Regions from separate parts of the Homo sapiens genome. Here region 2 is linked to region 1. A link means that fine-mapping ties the variant in region 1 to the expression of a gene that starts in the linked region. Tissue or cell type: whole blood. Region 1 holds a variant in brackets; the other region holds the start of a gene. All regions are shown on one strand. Distances are between the middles of the regions.

Region 1 (8,104 bases):
TTGAACTCTGCAGTTTCCCAGTTTCATTAAGAAGCCCATTGTTGAGTCTGGCCATGCGTCAAGGACACGTGGACTCTTGGGGCAACCCCGTTTCTCCAGCATCCTCCCAGGTGATGGGTTGGTGTGGCCAGGAGCCAACAGGAAGGGTGTGGGCCAGAGGGGAGAGGCTTCCTAGCAGCTGGCTGCCCTGGAGCTCCGGGAAGGTTTGACCATCAGGTTTACTGCACCAGGAATATATCCTTCAGTTTCCCCCAGCCAATCTGTAGAATAAGGAGAAATGGAGAGTGTAGGAAGATAACTGCAGTGTGGACACAGCCTCAGGTTTCTTCTTCGGTAAAGCTGATGTTTATTACACAGGGGCATAGTAAGTGAAGCATGCACTTCATTTTTCATTTTTCCTAGAATCCAGTGCTGCTAAAAAAAAAAAAAAAAAGGACAACTGTTTACTCACTGAAGAGCAAATATATACGTTGTTGGATGAGGAAGAAAAAGTTCCGTTGGGACGGGGCGTGGTGGTTCACACCTGTAATCCCAGCACTGTGGGAGGCTGAGACAGGAGGATTGCTTGAGCCCAAAAGTTCGAGTCCAGACTGGGCAAGATGGCGAAACCCCGTCCCTCCAAAAAATACAAATATTAGCTGGGCGTGGTGGTGTGCACCTAGTCCCAGCTACTTGAGAGGCTGAGGTGGGAGGATCGTTTGAGCCTGGGAGGCAGAGGTTACAGGGAGCAGGAGGTTACAGTGAGATGAGATTGCGTCACTGCACTCCAGCCTGGGCGACAGCAAGACCCCGTCTCAGAAAAAAGAAAAAGTTCCATTGCTCCCCACCACCCAAATGAATGCCACCTAAAACAGCTCCTGAATGGCTGGGGGCCAGAGTGGCGGGTTTTGGGAGAAACAAACCACAGCTGCCAGTTATGAGGCACCAGCTGCACCACATCGTTTCATTAGATCCCCCGCGATGCCATGAGGCAGGAGCTCTTCAACTCACTTTCCACATGAGGAAAATAAGGTTTCGGGAAGTTAAGAAACTTGTTTCTGCCACACACATCTTACCTTCTGATTTGATTTTGTGAGAAAAGCCTGGTTTGTTTGTTTGTTTGTTTGTTTTTGCCTGAGCATGGTGCACATTTCAATCTGGAATGAAGGAGTATAGTGAGGGGGAGGTGCGGCGCACCTCAGCTGTGCAGGTGTGTGGTGTTACTTAAAGCACACCATAGCGGCTACTGGGAAGCCTGGGTCCCAGCCCTGTTGCTAAGCTGCTGCTTGACCTGGAGTAGCTCCCTTTTCCCAGCGTGCCTCAGTTTCCTCATGGGAAAGCTCACTACCAGCTGAAGGTGAGTGGACTGGGGATGGAGAGGAGGGGACAGAGCTGGGGTGCAGGCCGGCAGACGGGTGGAGTGTGGGAGAGGCTGAGATGGGGAGAGTCCGGGGAGCAATGGGGTTCCAAGGAGGGGGCTGAGTCCTGGCCTGGGGAAGTCAGGTTCAAGGCGCTGGCGTCCCAGCTGATCCCTGGACCTGAACAGGGACCTGTTCCCTGTCCTGCTTGGAAGTCCCATCCTGGGTGTGGGCAGCCAGAGAAAGGAAGCGTTCTCCCAGTGCTGCCATGGGCTGCAGCCCTACCCTGCTGGGCTGAGTTCTGTGTTTAATGGAGGGAGGAGGAGGAGAGGGGTGAAGAGCTGGGCCTTCTGGTAGCTTTTTATAATTATTTCTAAAATGCTATATTTGGATATTATTTTCTGCTTCTACAAATAAAACATGCATATTGTAAAAAAATTCAAACATAACAAAAATCTGAAATTGCTGGAAATGCTTTCCCAGGGCTGCTCCCTAGAACAAACTATTAATTATTAGGTGCTCATTGTACATGCTTTTTTACTCCTTTATTTTCCTTTTTTTTTGGTAACATATGAACATGTTTATGTTGGACAATATAGAAGTATTTGAATCCAAATATCAGAGTTCCTCTTCCACTCCTTTCAACCTCCTGGTATGGCAGGCCAGGCCTCAGGAACGCGGGCCTCCGTAACAACTATTTCAGTACTGACTGGTGAAGTTAAATATTAAAAGCTGGTAGAGCCAGTGTCCTTACACAAAAGCTGGAATGTAACAAAACCCCACCCAGAGTTTCGCCTAGGCCTTTCCTGGGCCTTAAAGCATGACAAAATAACGAAGGCATTCTTAACAAAACCTGTTTAGGATTAAACAAACAAGTTTTATTGGGGGGTCTGAAGAAACTCCCCAGGCCTCCACGAACAAGTTTATTGGAGGTTGGAAGGAACTCCCCAAACCTCTGTGATTTAGTAGGAGACAAGATAAGGGTAATCACTGCAGCACCTGGACCCATTTAGATTAAGTCAATTTACTGAGGCTCCAGAGGAAGGTCTTCAGGACTCAGACCTTAGTTATAGATTAGAAGTTAATCACTTATGTCTTTAGATAAATGCACACTTACACGTACACATAGAGCTTAGAAGGTATATAAGCTCTGGAATACTTTGAAATTTTGAGTTGGTCTGGCGATAATTTCCAGGCCTTCTCCCTGCACCTGGTTACAGAAATAGAAATTCTCTTCTTTCCCAGTTTATCTGCATCTTGATATGGGGCCACGAGAATAAGCAGCTCGTCCCTCGGTGTGGTCCGGGAGCACTGGCACTAAGCACTGGGCAGTGGGAGGGCAGCTTCTGGGCAGTGCCCCCCAGCCTGCTCCCTCCTGCCACTCCACCTCCCAGGCAGGTCCTCCCACCTCCCCAGGGGTGTGGTGGGGAGGGCTGGGGAGGCCTCAGCACTCCACTGACTCATCAACCCTTCTGTCCTTTGATGGGTAGGATGGGGTGAACGCTAATGCCAGCAGACCTGGTTTCATAATATCTTAGTGTGTTCTGCATGTGTGATCCAGCCCCTCCCTTGGGATGCAGGGGAACTATGCATCTTTTATGTATTCTCAGACTTTGAGGTCTCAGCTGAATTGGAGACAGAAATAATCCCATCTTAATGTCCAGTCACATAACTATATCATCACTTATTTAACTGGCTTTCACTGATGGACATTAGGTTGTTGTGTGAGTGTGCATGCAATACACATCACACCCATGTGTGAGCTCCTGTGCTAGTATTAATATTATAAACAATGCCTCTCATCATGCCACCTGACTTCAAACTATACTATAGAGCAGCAGTAACCAAAACAGCATGGTACTGGTACAAAAACTGACACATAGACCAAT[G/A]GCACAGGATAGCCTAGAAATAAGGCCACGCACCTACAACCATCTGATCTTTGACAAACCTGACAAAAACAAGCAATGGGGAAAGGACTCCCTGTTCAAAGTGGTGCTGGGATAACTGGCTAGCCATATGCACAAGATTGAAACCAGACCCCTTCCTTATATCATATACAAAAATTAACTCAAGATGGATTAAAAACTTAAACATAAAACCCAAAACTATAAAAACCCTGGAACACAACCTAGGCAATACCATTCCAGACATAGAAACTGGCAAATATTTCATGACGAAGAAGCCAAAAGCAATTGCAACAAAAGCAAAAATTGACAAATGGAATCTAAAGAGCTTCTGCCCAGGAAAAGAAACTATCAACAGAGTAAACATGCAACCTACAGAATGTGAGAAAAATTTTACAAACTAGGCATCTGACAAAGGTCTAATATCCAGCATCTATAAGGAACTTAAATTTATAAGAAAAAGACAACCCCATTAAAAAGTGGGCAAAGGATATGAACAGACACTTTTCAAAAGAAGACATACATGTGGCCAAGAATCATATGAAAAAAAATCAACATCACTGATCATTAAAGAAACTGAAATAAAAAACATGATAAGACACCATCTCACACCAGTCAGAATGGCTGTTAAAAAGCCAAAAAAGAACAGAAGCTGGCAAGGTTGAAGAGAAAAGTGAATGCTTTTACACTGTTGGTGGGAGTGTAAATTAGTTCAACCATTGTGGAAGACAGTGTGGTGAGTCTTCAAAGACCTAAAAACAGAAATACAATTCGACCCAGCAATCCTATTACTGGGTATATACTCAAAGGAATACAAATTGTTCTATTATAAAGACACATGCACACATACGTTCATTGCAGCACTATTCACAATCGGAAAGACACGGAATCAACCCAAATGCCCATCAGTGGTAGATGGATAGAGAAAATGTGGTACCTATACACCATGGAATACTATGCAGCCATCAAAAAGAATGAGATTATATCCTTTGCAGGAACATGGATGGAACTGAAGGCCATTATCTTTAGCACACTAATGCAGGAACAGAAAATCAAATACCTCATGTTCTCACTTATAAGTGGGAGCTAAATGATGAGGACACATAGAGGGGAACAACACACACTGGGGCCTGTCAGGATGTGAAGGGTGGGAGGAGGGAGAGGGTCAGGAAAAATAACTAATAGATACAAGACTTAATGTCTGGGTGACAAAATAATCTGTACAACAAACCCCCATGACACAAGTTTACCTATATAACAAACCTGCACGTGTACCCCTGAACTTAAAATAAGTTAAAAAACAAAAATGCCTCAGGCATTGTAGTTGCCAATTCTCATAAGCAATTGTCACTTTGGCCTTCCTAGACCTCTAACCAGTCTCCAAACAAGTTCCCCTGCCCTGCTCTTCAAACTAGAAGTTGAGCACTGGGCCTACCCAATGTATGTCACAGGGCTCCGAAAGCATCACATTTACTTAAACCTTCTGGTGTAACGGGGATGTAATGTAATTATTATGTACTTAAGAGAGGATAAATTGGCTGGGCATTTCTCCATTGTAGTGAGCTATTTGCTGTTGGTGCCAAACCTGCAGGCCCTGCAGAGTCCATTCACAGTCATTCCCCTCTGCCCTCAGGGATATTTTGATAGGAAATCTTGAAACGTATTCTCTGTAGTAGGCAGCATCCAAGATGGCCCCAGGGATCCCAGCCTCTTGATATCCACACCCTTAGGCAGTCCCTTCCCACAGTGCACCAGGATTGGCCTGTGCGACCAAAGAATATAGCAAAGGGATGGCAAGTCACTTCCACAATTAGGTTATAAGGTTACTATAGGTTATAAAAGGCTTCAAAGCTGAGTGCCATGGCGTGTGCCTGTAATCCTAGCTACCTAGGAGGATGAGGTGGGAAGATCCCTTAGCCCAGGAGTTTGAGACCAGCCTGGATAACATAGAGCCTCATCTTAAAAAAAAAAAAAAAAAAAAAGACTCCACTGGGCGCGGTGGCTCACGCCTGTAATCCCAGCACTTTGGGAGGCCAAGGCAGGTGGATCACCTGAGGTCAGGAGTTCAAGACCAGCCTGGCCCACATGGTGAAACCCCGTCTCTACTAAACATACAAAAATTAGCTGGGCATGCTGGCAGGTGCCTGTGATCCCAGCTACTCAGGAGGCTGAGGCAGGAGAATCACTTGAACCCAGGAGGCGGAGGTTGCAGTGAGTTGAGATTGCACCACTGCACTCCAGCCTGGGTGACAGAGCGAAGACCCTGTCTCAAAAAAAAAAAAAAAAAGGTTTCTCTGGCTGGGTATGGTGGCTCACACCTGTAATCCCAGCACTTTGGGAGGCCGAGGCAGGTGGATGACTTGAGGTCAGGAGTTCAAGACCAGCCTGGCCAATGTGGTGAAACCCTGTCTCTACTAAAAATACAAAAATTAGCCGGGCATGATGGTGCACACTTGTAATCCCAGCTACTCAGGAGGCTGAGGCAGGAGAATTGCTTGAACCAGGGAGGCAGAGGTTGCAGTGAGCTGAGATCATGCCAGTGCACTCCAGCCTGGGTGACAAGAATGAAACTTGGTCTCAAAAAAAAAAAAAAAAAAAAAAAAGACTTGTGCTCTCTATCTTTATTGGATAATTTGCCTTGAGGAATGGGGATGGTTACTGGTAGGCAATGAAAAATGTTCATTAGACAAAATGTCTAGATTTGTAAACCCAAGAACTTAGTCCGGAAGACAATATTGCTTCTTTTGATTTAGAAGAAACTGAATGCTCTAGAGGGCAAAATAATCGATTTTTCATTCAGTGCTGAGTTTCAACCACGTATCATTAATACGTGAATGATTCCAGGACCTTCTCTCCAGACCTTTGGAGGTGTCTTCACACAGGAAAGCTGTTGGTTAATGAGCCTGCCATGTGGGTATACCGTAGTTGGCACTTTCATTCTCACTCAGTTATTTGCGTCCCTTTGATCCTGCGAAGTATCTTCGTATCCCCACATGCTAGATGAGGAAATGATGCCTGAAGAGGTTACACAAATGACCCATGGACACGCTGCTAATTAGTGGCACGTCTCTGGTGTTAATAAGGATTCTCAACGAATTGGAGTTATGTTACCAAGTCAAAACATGGGGAACTGGCTGGGCGCGGTGGCTCACCCCTGTAATCCTAGCACTTTGGGAGGATGAGGCGGGCAGATTGCTAGAGCTCAGGAGTTTGAGGCCAACCTGAGCAACATAATGAGACCTCTTGTCTCTACAAAAAATTTAAAAAATTAGCCGGGAGTGGTGGCACAAACCTGTGGTTCCAGCTACTTGGGAGGCTGAAGTGGGACAATGACTTGAGCCTAGGAGCAAGACCCTGTCTCAAAAATAAAAACCAAAACTTGGGGAATTCGTCCTAAGGATCCACGGGTGTCTCATGGAGCTTGAGAGCTGAGGTCCAGGTAGGACACGACCAGGGACCATTGGTCATGCTCCATCGGGGTGCTCTGCTTCCCTCTCTGCTCCTCTCCGTCTCTGCTCTGTTCTTCTCTTTTCCTGCAGTCAGGCTCTCTCTGCTCCTCTAGGCCTTGCGGCAGGAAAAGGTGGCCACTACGGTTACTGGTTTTTTTTGTTTTGTTTTTTTCCTGGTTTTTTTTTTTTTTGAGATAGAGTCTCGCTCTGTCACCCAGGCTGGAGTGCAGTGGTGCGATCTCAGCTCACTGCAACCTCTGCCACCCAGGTTCAAGCGATTCTCCTGCCTCAGCCTCCCGAGTAGCTGGGACTACAGGTGCCTGCCACCACGCCCAGCTAATTTTTGTTATTTTTAGTAGAGACGGGGTTTCGCCATGTTGGCCAGGCTGATCTCGATCTCCTGGCCTCAGCCTCCCAAAGTGCTGCGATTACAGGCCTGAGCCACCACGCCTGGCCATCACTGTTCTTTTCTTCCTCCCTCAGTTCCAAAATCCTAGAGAAGGCACACCCATGGGCACAGGGGGCACGTCATGTCATACAAAATGGACGCTGACCTGGCCCCACTCCCGAGGGCCTCAGCGGATAGAGTCATTATGAGCTGCGCCGATAGCCCGGAAGCGGAACTAGCGTTGCAGATCAGCAGCAGGGAGCGAGCCCCTGTGAGGTCGGCCAGGGACTTCCTACGGGTGGATTGCTGTGACAGCAGCTTTGTGCCTACAACTTCTGCCAGCTTCCTGCTTTTTCTCTCATCACAGCCATTTTGTCCAAGCAGCCCCTACGGCTACTTATTGTGCAATTCACCGAGTGCACTGAGGAGCTTCAAGAAATAGCTGCCTGGGCCTGGGTTTCCGTCCACATCTTTGTGAGATGAGACTCTGGGGCTGCCTGGGCCTGAGCTTCCGTCCACATCTTTGTGAGATGAGACTCTGGGGCATTTCCCTCCAGCATGGCCTTTGGTTCCAAGTCAGGTTTGGGTGGTAGATTCCTAGGAAGAGTCTCGATGAGCCAGTCCCTGTGGGACAGGCGATGCCCTCTCTGGACAATGGGCCCCATGGACCCTGGACGGTCGAGGAGCTGATGTCATCTGAGTTCTGTGCACGGGCCAGGGCTTGTTGCTGGTTGCAGTTTCTGTGTGCGTGCGGTATGTCGGGGTGGCTGTCAACTCTGTCTGGATTAATAATGACTGACTTGAACCTAATTCATTAGATACACAAGACCAGGAAGGTGGTTCACCCAGAATTGGGCAAGTCATGGGAGCCGCGGCAGCCTTCCTCTGGCCTGTCTCTGCCAGGCCTCCGCAGTGCATCACTCAGAGCTGAGAGGAGCCCTGCCCAGCTCAGCAGGCCCAGGGTCCTGAAGAAGGTGTTGTTGGCCCAAGGCCCCCAGGCAGCCCTGGGATGGCACAGGTGGCTCC
Region 2 (8,104 bases), 180 kb before region 1:
CCCGAGTCTAGAGGAGGCAACTCAAAGGTGTGGAGAGGAGCCCAGAAAGATTAGGAATTTATCCCAAAGAAACTGAAGTAGATGTGAGTTTCCTTGAGTGTGATCTCAATCTTAAAAAAAAAAAAAAATCCTCTAAGCCAGGTGCAGTGGCACTCACCTGTAGTCCCAGCTACTTGGGAGGCAGAGGCAGGACAATCATCTGACCCAGGAATTCAAGGCTGCAGTGAGCTACTGTACTCCAGCCTGGGCACCATAGCAAGACACCATCGCTAAAAAAATTATCTAAGATAAGTATTATTATCTTCATTTTACAGATGAGAAAACAGACATGGAGAAACCCGAGCACCCAAACCAGAGCCACAGTCTCTGTGGGCAGCAGAGCTAGAAACTGAACTTGGGCCACAGGACTTCAAACCCATGTTCCACACTCTTAACAATTACCAAGTTTTTGTTGTTGTTGTTTTTTGTTTTTTTTTTTAGACAGGGGCTTGCTCTGTTGCCCAGGCTAAAGTACAGTGGCACAATCATAGCTCACTACAGCCTCGACCTCCCAGGATCAAATGATTCTCCATCTCAGCCTCCTGAGGAGCTGGGACCACAGGCATGTGCCACCACACCTGGCTAATTTTTGTAATTTTTTTTTTTTAATTTTGTGAGACACAGGGTCCCTCTATATTGTCCAGGCTCGTCTCAAACTCCTGTTCTCAAGCGATTCACCTGCCCTGGCTTCCCAAAGTGCTAGGATTACAGGTGTGAGCCACCACGCCCAGCCTGCAGAGTATTCAGATTGTCATTTATATCTGAACGTGTTTTGATTTTGCCTTTCAGTGCTGTAAGAGGGATTTTTTTTATTTTCTAGATGATTCAAAAATTTTTAGCCAATCTTTTGTTATTTAGTTTTAGTTTTATTACATTGTGCTCAGAAAATGTGACTGAATTTTTTCTACTTTCAGGAATTTATTACAGCTTAGTTTAAGACCTAACATTTGGTCAATTTTTGTATTTATTCCATACAAATTTGAAAATAATGTTATCGGGCCGGGAGTGTTGGCTCACGCCTGTAAACCCAGCATTTTGGGAGGCCGAGGCGGGTGGATCACCTGAGATCGGGAGTTTGAGACCAGCCTGGCCAACATGGAGAAATCCCGTTTCTACTAAAAACACAAAAATTAGCTGGATGTGGTGGCACATGCCTGTAATCCCAGCTACTGGGGTCAAGGGGAGGGCACTGAGGCAGCAGAATTGCTTGAACCTGGGAGGTGGAGGTTGCAGTGAGCCAAGATCAAGACACTGTACTCCAGCCTGGGCAACAGAGGGAGACTGCATCTCAAAAAGAAAAAAGAAAATAATGTTATCAAGTATGAATGGTATTAATACAAATTAAAAGGCAGATATTGTCAGACAGGATTTAAAAAAAAGACCTAACTGCATCTTGTCAACTATAAGATGTCTATTTTAAATATAAAGAAACGGTTAAAAGTTAAAAGATGGAGTAGTGGTGGCTGGGCGGGGTGGCTCACGCCTCTAATCCCAACACTTTGGGAGGCCAACGTGGGTAGATCACTTGAGTTCAAGGCCAGCCTGGCCAATATGGTGAAACCCCGTCTCTACTAAAAATACAAAAAATTAGCTGGGCATGGCGGCACATGCCTGTAATCCCAGCTACTTGGGAGGCTGAGGCAGGAGAATTGCTTGAACCCAGGAGGTGGAGGTTGCAGTGATCCGAGATCGCACCACTGCACCCCAGCCTATGAGACAGAGCGAGACTGTCTCAAAACACACACACACACACACACACACACACACACAAAGACAATACATTGGGTCAATCACTCTTCTTTGTGTCTGACCTTTGTGGCCATTTGTCTCTTGTGTCTGATGCCTGGACAGCGACTCCCTCTCCAACTAGCCCACGGCCCTTGGTCGGGGTTGACTTTGGCACTGCCCTAACACCCTCCATTCAGCACCCTGTTCCTTCATGTGCCTGCTGCTAAGGTTATGAATTTCTAAGTTAGGAAATGCATCCACTCTCAGCCCCTCTCACCTCCAGTCCTCAGACCTCAAGGTGTCAGTGAAACATGGTGGTCCCAGATGGGCTTCCCTCTGCGTGCAGTGAGCAGCCCGCTGAGCCTCACTGTCTCCACCCACGGCCTTAAAGTTTTTGTTATGTGAAATACAGCCTTCTAGAGATTCTAGGGGCAACATGGAATTCTTCCTACTGTGTTTATTTGATTATTTCAATAGGCATTTGTTGACAAAATGGGAGAGGGAATTGAATAGAGGGGGTTAGATCCCCACCTAGCACCAGGAGTCCCTTTTGTTTGTTTATAGAGATGGGAGGGGGGGTCTCACTATATTGCCTCAGGCTGGTCTTGAACTCCTGGGCTCAAGAATCCTCCCACCTCCGCCTCCTGAAGTGCTGGGATTACAGGCGTGAGCCACCGCACCCAGCCCCAGGAGTCCCTTTTGAATCAGGGTTGGGCACCAATTTGACCCATACTGAATACTTTAGGTGACTGTAACACAATGGTAAAAATTTGCATATATAAACAGATGTAAACATAGAAACATAGTAAAAATATGGTATCATAATCTCTTGGGACTACCACAGTATATGTGGTCTGGCATTGACTGAAATGTCATTACTCATGACGGTACTAAAATACAGTAGGTGTATTTGCCTGACATGGGGAAAGGAATAGAGAGCACAGTGCCCAGCCATCGCCCTGCGGGACATTCGTAAGCCGTTGGTATTACAAATTCTAGCCTTATCATCAGTGGGTCAGCTCACTTCAGTGCCCATTCATTGAAAAGCCTTAAAATTCGCTTCCTTCATTTGGGGTGTACTGAGCCCCTTCCCCAGAAAGGAGCGCTTGCGGGAAGTCTGGCACAGGTGACTAGGGCTGTGCGGTCAAGTAAGTGCACTTCTCCCACGGGGCAGGGGCCATGGGTGGGACCACATCTCCCCAGTACCTGGTGTGTGCTGCTCCCAGGGTCAGGGCACCTGGCAGTTGGAAAGACCGGCCGACCCCGAGGGATGGGCAGCACTGGAATGGTGGCTCCAGGGCCAGCACTCCCGGAGGAGGGACCGCCTGAGGAAAGGCAGGGAGGTGGGAAATCCCAGAACATGTTTGGGGAATGACAAGACATCTAGTTTGACTGGAGTATGGGGAAAAGGTGGGGCGTTGGGGAGACAGGTCTGGGGCCAGACTGCAGGGGTGGGAATTGGCTTGGTCTGGGAGGCAATGAGGGGCGAGTGGACGGGTCAGAGGCGGCGGCGCTTCCACCCCGACTGGCATTAGAGGGCGTGTCCTAGGAGAGGAGCATCCCCCTCCCCGGACCAGCCGCCCTCCGGAGCCCAGAGTCACCGGAGATGGGGGCACACCCCGGGGCTGCGTGTGTCGTGTCAGGCCGCGGCAGGGAGAGGCCGTCCCCTGGTGGCGCCGGCCGGAACGCCCCTCGTGCCGCGACCGCGCGCCCCTCTGTCCTCGCCGCGCGTCGGCGCAGAGCAGCCACCCGGGGCCCAGCAGGCGCGGGCTTCCCCACGCGCCCCGGGAAGGGACAGCTCGGTGTGGGGTCCGGGAGGCTTGAGCCCCGCGGCCGCATCCGGGGAGCCCTCGGCAGTCGCGGAGCTGCTTCCCAGGGGTGAGCTCTCCGGGAGGCCCACGGGGTGGCCCCGGGCGCCTCCGCCCTCAGCTGTCGCTCCTTATAAGGCGGGGGCCGGGCGGCGCCGGAGGAGGGGCCGCGGCATCAGCCCGGTCCTGGGCTCTGGGGCGGCGCTGGGCCGGGCGAGCGCAGTGCAGCGCAGCCGCGGGGAGCGAGGAGCGCGCGGAGCCGGCCATGGGCAAGTCAGGTGAGCCCGCGGGCTCGCCCGCTGCGGAATGGTTCGGAACCCCGCGCTCCCGGACCTCGCCGTCTCCCTCGTCCGCCGCAAGCCAGGTCCTGGGGAGTGCGGGAGCCCGGGGTGCGGGTGGAGGGCGCGCGGGCGGAGCGCCCCGGCGCGGTTTCCGGGGAACCCGGGGGGAAGGCGAGCCCGAGGGAGGCCCCCGCCGGAGAGCCGGGGATCGCGCCAAGTTGGGCTTCCCGACCCTGAGGGGCTGCGCGCCGCGGCCCGCCAAGGCGTGGCTTCTGCTTTGTTTCAGGAGGCCAGACTTAGAGTTGGAAAAGTCACCAAAGTGTGACAACAGCTCTCGCTGCGAAGCAGTTTGCCCCGCTCGGCTGTCCCGAGGACAGCCCTGAGCATCCCCCTCATCCATTTGTTGTTCCTTCTCTCCTGAGCGCCCGCGCCGTGCCGGGCTCCCCCTGTGCTAGGCTCGGTCTGGCTCCCTTTCTCCTGGGGCACCCCATCCTCTCTACTGTGGCTGTCGGGATGAACTTTCTGCAGCGCAGCTCTCCTCCTGTCGCTCCCTAACACCTTCCTCACCATTGTCCTCAGAGTGAAAGGACACACTCCAGTCCTGCCTTCGGGCCCCTGGGAGTGGGTCCCTAGCCCTTACCTCCGCCCTACACTAGAGCTGTCCAGAAGCTGGTGCACAGGTCCCTTCCCCTAGGTTTCCTTGCCGGGCCTTCACCACCCCAACTCTCAGCCTGAAAATCCCATCCCTCTAGGCTCAGCTCCTGGGCTGGAGCCCATCTGTGATTCCCCCCGGGAGGGAGCGCCCAACCTGGTGTTTTCCTCGCTGCAGCCCTTCCTGTAGTGGGCCGGGGACAAGAGTTCAGCCATAGACCTGTTTCCCACCGGGTCCTCACCCCTGGCTGCCAGGGGCCGTGTTTATCTCAGCATTGCTTCTGCCTCACAGGAGGCTCTTAGAGAACAGCTGTTGAACAGGATTCAGAAGTCCTGCTTCATCCGGATTGTCCACTTCAGATGAGTAAGGCTAGGTCCCTTCTAGGATCTGTCCTCCAAGATCTGGACTCAGGAGATGCCAGCGCTGGGCGCAAGTGGCTTTCCCTGGCCTTGGTCCTAACCAGCCTTCCTAGGCTGTAGAGGCAGGTCTGGCTTTCAGCCCTGGCCCAGCCAATCACTGGCTGTGTGATACTGAGCAAGCCTCCTTCCCTCTGTTCCTCCCTGTCTGTACAATGAGGGTGGCCGTATGAGCCCTGGGGTTCTTCACAGTATGGAAAGGTGATATAATGGGTTGCCATTTAGTTAACAGGATGACAGATGGTGATGGAGCAAAAGTATGGCAGATGAGAGCGAGTCTTTCGAGATATCTGCTTGGGAAATCAACTCCTTTCTCTGTAGAAATTTGTGGAGAAAATCCACAAATTCCCTTAGGCTACTTTTTTTTTTTCTTTCTTTCTGAGACGTGGTCTCCTTCTGTTGCCCAGGCTGGAGTGCAGTGGTGCGATCTCGGCTCACTGCAACCTCCGCCTCCCAGGTTCAAGTCATTCTCCTGCCTCAGCCTCCTGAGTAGCTGGGATTACAGGTGTGCGCCACCACGCCCAGCTAACTTTTGTATTTTTAGTAGAGACAGGGTTTCACCGTGTTGGTCAGGCTGGTCTTGAACTCCTGACCTCATGATCTGCCTGCCTCAGCCTCCCAAAGTGCTAGGATTACAGGTGCGCCCAGCCTAGGCTACACCTTAATCAGTTGTTTCTGGCATCTTATGTAAGGCACGGTTTTCCAGAACTGCTCATATTCAGCTGTGTGCCCATTCTTCTGTCTGTTCGCCCCTTCCTCCTTCCCTCCCTTGCACTGTCTAGCAGCTCTGTATCAAGCTGTGGACCCAGTGCCGGGGCGTGCATCCACTTGGATTGTGAAAGGAATACATAAAGCTATGTAGGGGATAGACAGGCACTATCTGGCTCGAGTAAGAGGTGGAAAATGATCCAAACCACAAGACAGGTGCTGGTGAAGGGTGGTGGGAGCTCAAGGTGAGGAGACTGCTCCGCGTGGGAGCCGACGAGGGTTCCTGGAGGAGATGGTCAAATCCCAGAGGGTCTTGGGAATTTAGACTTCATCTTATGGAACCTGGGGTGCCATGGAAAGGCACTGATCTGAAAGCAGCGTAACTAGAGCGTTGCCAGGGTGTAGGGTAGATCGGATGGATGGAGAGAAGGTGGAGGGAGGATAGGGGAGACTGCCGCAGTCACAAACAGGAGATGACAGAGGCATCCAGGGCAGGGTGGAGGCTGGAGAGGAGGATGGGATGGATTTGTGAGATGGTGGCCTTGGGCAGACTTGGTGACAACTTATTGTGAAGCAGAGGGAAGGGTCAGAGGCCTGCACGATGGGATGATGGCTTCCATGCCTGGAGATGCAGGGTTGGGCAGGTTTCAGAGGAAGATTACTTCTCACTCAGGAGAGGAGGGGGCCAGTGGCAGAAAGCAGGTTAGAACTGGTTGAGTCAGAGGCCACCTCCACCCCTAACACACACACACACACCCAGGGACCTTGCAGAATTCTGACCCAGGCCTTTCTCCCTCATAGTCACGTGCATTTAATTTAACTCCCCCACCCCAACCGGAAAACCGAGAGCCCCCAGAATAGTATTAATATCTGGCTCTCCTAGGGTCCCTAAAAGAAAATGACTTTTCTGGGTGACCCCGTGCCCAGTGGTCCTTCAACTCAAGCTCAACCTTGAAGTTCCAGGCCGTCAGCCCAGGGCTGCTGTCTGTGTCTATAGGGCAGGTGGCACTCACAGGGGCTCTGTGTGCTTCTGTAAAGACCATCATAAGGAATCTGTCCCTGCCCCTTCTGGGCCTCAGTTTCCTCCTCACTGCACAGGAGCCAGTCTCTTTTTCATCTTTAACCTCAGATACACCCCAGAGCTGCTTGGCATAACAGGCGTTATTGTAAAATCATCACACAGCTGGCACAGTTGAAATTCCAGAAGACGCTTGGCCTAGTGATCGAAGACTCCCAGATCCTGCTCCCAGCTGTGGTTTCTCTGCTGGGACTTGGTGTGCAGCAAGTGTGGTGGGGAAGAGAAAGGCAATGACCTTGGGCTCAGTGGAAGCCTCCTGTCCCTAATACTGGTGACACCAATGATTAATCTTCAACTGCATGCCAGGCAAAGAGCTCAGTATTTTCTATGTTACCATATTAGTGACAGCACTGCCAGGCAGTTATTATCAACTCATTCTATAGATTTACAGAGGTTGAGTACCTTGCCCAAGCTCACACACTGACAGGTAAGCAAGCCAGTGAATTTGAACTCAGCTCTCTGACTCCCCTACTGTGTCCTGTCCTCTCTCCCACACTGACCACTTGCCCTGACACCCTGCTCCCTGCCAGCCTGAACTCTAGGCCACTGGGGACTTCCACACACCCTCTCATCAGCTCTAAGAATATTAGTGTCCCTCCATCCACCTAGCACCAGAGGAAATCAGAGCAGAGAGGCCTTTAGGGACCAACGAGCCCAGGAGTTTTCTACTGAGTGGGACCCTCAGGCCTCTGCAGGGAGAAGCTGTGTGGGCCAGGCCAACCCCAGCAGTTTCATTTTCATCTGTTGCTTTTATTGAAGGTTTCCTTCAAAGGAAGGGTTTCCCTGCTTTGAAGATATTATGAAAACCACAGATGTCATCCTTCCTTCACACACAGATGGGAAACCTGGGGCCCAGAGGGGTAGGGATGTGCCTGAGTGACAGTAGGCAGGCAGGGCTGGAAAATGGCTGCCTCCCCTTCAATTACAACCACTGTCTATGGAGAGGGACAGCCTAGGGGAGGCTGATGCTTGGGGGAAGGGGGTGCCTTGTTCCCGTAAGCAATTGAGCAACTCGTCATAGACATCATTCTTGCCATTTGGAAAAGAGGAAGCAATTCGTAAAGTGGAAAGTGTGGGAGATTTGGAGCAGGGGAGGGGGTAAAGGGAGGGGCATTCTTACACCCGGCTCTAATGTGGGCTCTGTGTGGTCTTGGACAATGCGCATGCCCCCCACCATCCAAACACCCCAGTTTCCTCATCTGTAATGAAGAGAGGAATCCTGTCCCGCCTTCGCTGTGCTGGAGTGAGAACCTCATTCATTTGTTCACTCACTCATTCACTTAGCAAATATCCAAGCTCAGAGGGACTGAAAAAGGCCATCAAACGTCAATGTAAAGGCAGGGCAGGAGGGGACCTGACCCGGAAGGAGCAGGAACAGGTTCTTCTAAAGCCAA

What was found. PIP is the estimated chance that this variant, and not a neighbour inherited with it, causes the effect.
Region 2: GLIPR2 starts here. The variant in region 1 is fine-mapped to the expression of GLIPR2 in whole blood (TOPMed, PIP above 0.99).

What each region holds. Positions count from the first base shown.
Region 1 is chr9:36,317,891-36,325,994 of GRCh38, forward strand. LOC102724322 (a long non-coding RNA gene) reads left to right here. Exons shown (of 5, transcript XR_001746660.2): 5 at 1-575. Among named protein-coding and RNA genes, the nearest start is that of GNE, 63 kb to the left of the region's middle. The variant G/A (reference allele first, on the strand shown) is at 3,227.
Region 2 is chr9:36,132,939-36,141,042 of GRCh38, forward strand. GLIPR2 (GLI pathogenesis related 2) reads left to right here and starts at 3,795. Exons shown (of 5, transcript NM_022343.4): 1 at 3,795-3,853. The coding sequence starts at 3,841. RefSeq lists silencers at 3,447-4,016, 4,047-4,096.